Regions from separate parts of the Homo sapiens genome. Here region 1 is linked to region 2. The links come from fine-mapping of genetic effects on gene expression. Tissue or cell type: hippocampus. Region 2 holds a variant in brackets; the other region holds the start of a gene. All regions are shown on one strand. Distances are between the middles of the regions.

The links. PIP is the estimated chance that this variant, and not a neighbour inherited with it, causes the effect.
Region 1: it holds the start of MXD3, and the variant in region 2 is fine-mapped to the expression of MXD3 in hippocampus (GTEx, PIP 0.98).

What each region holds. Positions count from the first base shown.
Region 1 is chr5:177,310,659-177,313,158 of GRCh38, reverse strand. It overlaps MXD3 (MAX dimerization protein 3), which reads left to right and starts at 1,261. Exons shown (of 6, transcript NM_031300.4): 1 at 1,261-1,398; 2 at 1,675-1,780; 3 at 2,462-2,491. The coding sequence starts at 1,329. RefSeq lists enhancers at 127-186, 1,837-2,036, 2,294-2,500 and silencers at 407-976, 1,107-1,286.
Region 2 is chr5:177,160,964-177,163,463 of GRCh38, reverse strand. The region is part of intron 2 of NSD1 (nuclear receptor binding SET domain protein 1); the gene reads right to left. Among named protein-coding and RNA genes, the nearest start is that of NSD1, 28 kb to the right of the region's middle. The variant T/AAACT (reference allele first, on the strand shown) is at 1,072.

The DNA of each region.
Region 1 (2,500 bases), 150 kb before region 2:
AGACTCAGCCCGTGGCTGGCAGCAATGCTCCACCCTGCTACAGCTGCGTTCATCTTCCTGTCCCCAGATGTGGCCCCACCTGCTGGTGCTGAGGCTAGAAGTCATCACAGCCACTCCTTCGGCCGGCTAGGAGAGTCAGGTGCAAGAAGGGTTTATGGACTCTGAGTAAGGCAAGCAGGGGCTGCCTGGGAGGCAAACGCCGCGGTCTGGTTGCACTGGCCTTTGAGATGGGCGGCTCCTTCATGCCATGGGCACCGCAGAGGCATTGGCTCTGATCCTTCAACGCTGTCGCAGGGCTCCTGAGGCTTAGAGACGGAGGTCACCTCCTGAGTCATACACAGCTGAGACATCAGTGACAGGAGAGGACCCCAACTGCGTGGATACCAGAGCCCAAGGCCCCGGAAAAGGCCATTTCGCGTGCCTCCAGGGTATGGCCTGCCTGAGGAAGCTGTTACCCCACTGACGTTTTCGTAGCAACAACAGCTTCCTCACAGAAGAGGAGGGGGGCCGAGATATTATTCCCATTCGACACAGTAGGAAGCTGGGGCCCACGGGGGCCTTCGGGGGCAGATGGCAGGCAGGCTTGGGGACAGACCCCGGAGGGCAGGAGCCGGGTCCGCCGCCCCTCCGCCGGCGCCTGCGCATTGAGGCCCAGCTCCCCTCTCAACCCCGCCCCATCGCTTGGGTTTTCAAATTTGAAACCTGCTTCTTTTCCCGCCCGAACGTGTGGATCAGCGGCGGGAGAGGGCGGGGCAGAGCGCCAGCCAATAGGGCATCAGAGGCTCCCCGACCCCGCCCCGAGGATGACAACAGCGATCCTTGAGAAGCCATGTGCGAATGGGCGAGCGGCGGCCGGAGGCCCCGCCCCCGCGGCACCCACGTGCAGCGGCTGGGCCCGGCGCTTTCAGGGGACCACCAGGCCCCCAGAGCGCCGTGCTATGTTGGGGGCTAGTCACTAGCACGGGGCTGGAAGCTGAGATCAAAGACGCCAATGAGCCGGCGTGGGTGGATGAGTGAGGCGGGCAAGAAGCAGCACCGGTTAGCCTGAGGGTTCGCTCCAGGGCCAGGCCTGGAGCCAGCGCCCTTACCTGCCCCTGGAAAGTCTGAGACCACTCGGGGCGGGGCGGCTGCCGGAGGGTGGGCTGCGGCTCCGTGGCGGGTTCCAGAGGGGCGGAGCCAAGGGCTGGGCGTTCCCGCGGGCGGGGCGTCCCGGGGGCGGGGCGGGCCCCTGTGTTTGTTGCACCGTGTCAGTTACTTTGTAACAAAAGTGCTGCAGCCGCTTGCTCCGGCCGGCACCCTAGGCCGGCCCGCCGCCAGCTGTCGCCGACATGGAACCCTTGGCCAGCAACATCCAGGTCCTGCTGCAGGCGGCCGAGTTCCTGGAGCGCCGTGAGAGAGGTGAGGAAGGACCCTTGGCTGAATTCCGGGCGGCGACCTCGCTGACACGGGCCTGGACTGGACCTGGCTCCCAGCTTGAAGGATGCACCGCCCTAGGACAGTAATCCCGGGGCGCCTCGCCCTCAACTCGAGAGGAGTCCCGGGGCGGTAGAGCAGGGACGGGTGGGGGAAATGGTCCTGGCGCCAAAAGCCTTTCCTTGACCGTGCTGTGCCTGGGGCTGCCGCTGGGACCAGGTCCAGCCCCAGCCTGACGCGGGCGGGGACTCTCTCTGGCAGAGGCCGAGCATGGTTATGCGTCCCTGTGCCCGCATCGCAGTCCAGGCCCCATCCACAGGAGGAAGAAGCGACCCCCCCAGGCTCCTGGCGCGCAGGACAGCGGGCGGTGAGGAGGCCGGGGGCGGCGGGAGTGGGGGTGGGGGTGGGCGCCGCCCCTGGTCGGGCCCTCCTCTGCCCACTTGTTGCTTGCATCTTTTGGGCCAGGTGTCCCGCTCCAGGAAGCGTTCAGACCCCTCCTGCCATCTCCCCACTCTCCAAACACACTCACACCTTTCTATTCATTCAAGGACTATTTCTTGAGCACCTCTAGATGTGCCGGGAACTGCCAACAGCAGTTGGGGTCCCGCTTCCACTCGCACTCCCGCACCCCACACATCAGGCCACTCACCTCCCCCGCTGGCTTCCTCCTCTTCTCTCCTCTCCCCAGCCCTTTGCATATGCTGTTCCCTCCTATTTGAATGCCCCTCCCTCCAGTACCGGCTTGGGAAACATCTGTTTCCGCAGTTAGCTGTCACCTCTGGGAGGTCCTTTCTGGCCAGCTGGCAGGCGCCCTTGTTAGGGCCCTCATACCCACCTGGGCAGGCTTCTGTTAAGCATTTGGCTCCGTGTGTCTTTGACTCCCCTCGCCCTGCCAGGGGACTCTGGTGTCTGAGGCCAGCATGAGCTCTCCACAGGGGACTTGTTTGGGGCAGACATCTGTAGTGGCTCTTGAGCCACTGGGGGCCCTGGGATTGGGGCATGGGCAGTAGCTGATTCCCCTTCACCTCATCCTCTCTGGCATTGGCAGGTCAGTGCACAATGAACTGGAGAAGCGCAGGTGAGTCCC
Region 2 (2,500 bases):
CCTTTCTACGTAAGAAATTTCATGGCTGGGCGCGGTGGCTCATGCCTGTAATCCCAGCACTTTGGGAGGCCAAGGTGGGTGGATCATGAGGTCAGGAGTTCAAGACCAGCCTGGCCAACATAGTGAAACCCCGTCTCTACTAAAAATACAAAAATTAGCCGGGCATGGTGATGCGTGCCTGTAGTCCCAGCTACTCGGGAGGCTGAGGCAGGAGAATCACTTGAACCCAGTAGGTGGACGTTGCAGTGAGCCGAGATCGTGCCACTGCATTCCAGACTTGGCAACAGAACGAGACTCCGTCTCAAAAAAAAAAAAAAAAAAGAGACATTTCATTAATCTTTATCACTTTTGGCATTATTTGTCAACTGAGGGAGAAATTAACTAATTATTTCACATTTACTTTTGAAGGCCAGCAGTAATCCCAGGAACTTGAGACCAACCTGGGCAACACAGGGAGACCCTGTCTCTTGAAAACATTTTTTAAAAATTAGCCAGGTATGGCTGAACATAGTGGCTCATGTCTGTAATCCCAGCACATTGGGAGGCCGAGGCAGGTAGATCACTTGAGCTCATGAATTCTAGACCAGCCTGGGCAAACATGGCAAAACCCCATCTCTAAAAAAAATAAAAAATTAGATGGGTGAGGTAGCGCCTGTGCCAGCTACTCAGGAGGCTGAGGTGGGAGGACTGCTTGAGCCCAGGAGGCAGTGAGCTTAGATCACACCACTGCAGTCCAGCCTGCATGACAGAGAGTAAGACCCAGCCTCAAAAAAGCTATAATGGGCAAGGCAAGGTAACTCATGCCTGTAATCCCAGCACTTTGGGAGGCCAAGGTGGGCGGATCGCTTGAGCTCACAAGTTTGAGACCAGCCTAGCCAATAGGGCGAAAGAAACCCTGTCTCTACAAAAGCATGGTGACACATGCCTGTGGTTCCAACTACTCATGAGGCAGAGGTGAGAGGATCGCTTGAATCTGGGATGCAGAGGTTGCAGTGAGCCGAGATCCTACCACTGAACTCCAGCCTGCGTGACAGAGTGAGACCCCCATCTCAAACAAACAAACAAACAAAC[T/AAACT]ATAATGACTTCCAGCCTGGTTAATTTTAACAAATTCCTAGTAAAAATTTGGAAAGACCCGATGACATTTTTCAACTAGATTTTTTTTTTTTTTTAAGACCGAGTCTCACTCTCTTGCCCAACCTGGAGGGCAGTGTCCTGATCTCAGCTCACTGCAACCTCCACCTCCCGGGTTGAAGCAATTCTCATGCCTCAGCCTCCCGAGTAGCTGGGACTACAGCCATGAGCCACCACGCCCAACTAATTTTTGTGTTTTTAGTAGAGATGAGGTTTCCCCATGTTGGCCAGGCTAGTCTCGAACTCTGGATCTCAGGTGATCTGCCCACCTCAGCCTCCCAAAGTGCTGAAATTACAGGAGTGAGCCACAGCGCCCGGCCTCAATTAGATTCAATCTGTGCTTTTTCCCACTGAGTAGCAGCCAAAATTAAGAAACAGAAACAAGTGCCTAGAACAGTGGCTCACACCTGTAATCTCAGCACTTTGGCAGGCTGAGGCAGGTGGATCTGTTGAAACCAGGAGTTCAAGAACAGCCCGGCCAACATGGTGAAACCCCATCTCTACTAAAAATACAAATATTAGCCAGGCGTGGAGGAGGCTAGAGGAGGAGAATCACCTGAACCCAGGAGGCAGAGGTTGCAAGTGTGCCAAGATCATGCCACAGCACTCCAGGCTGGACTCTATCTCAAAAAACAAAAACAAAAAAAAAAAAAAAGAAAGAAAGAAACAGAAAACAGGTTTATAAATAACCCAATGTTCACAGGAAAAATTCAGGTAAAAAAAATATAATTTCAATCGTTTGCACAAAAAATAGAGGCCTAGATGGAAGGATTACTTGAGCCCAGGAGTTTGAGACCCAGCCTGGGCAAAATAGTAAGACCCTATCTCTATTTAGAAAAAAATTTTTTAAAAATAGGAGAATATAGGGAAAGGTCTATCTACACCTTGCCTACCCCTCCAATGTCATCCCTTCCTGCCCCACCCTCCCAGCCTAATCACGCCACACTGAATTTTTTTTTTTGAGACAGCATCTCACTCTGTCACCCAGGCTGGAGTGCATAATCAGAGCTCACTGCAGCCTGGAACTCCTGAGCTCAGATATCTTCCCACCTCAACCACCCAAGTAGCTGGGACCACAGGCACATGCCACTCCACCCAGCTAATTTATTTTTTTTGTAGAGGCCGGATCTCCCTATGTTCCCCAGGCTTGTCTCAAACTACTGGGCTCAAGCTAGACTCCCACCTCAGTCTCCTAAAGTGCTGCGATCACAGGCATCAGCCCCCATGCCTGGCCCATACTCAACTTTTTATTCTCCCAAAGCAGCAGCTTTGGGAGAATAAAATTACTCCTGTAATTTCAGCACTTTGGGAGGCTGAAGTGGGCAGATCACCTGAGGTCCAGAAGTTGAGACTAGCCTGGCCAACATGGGGA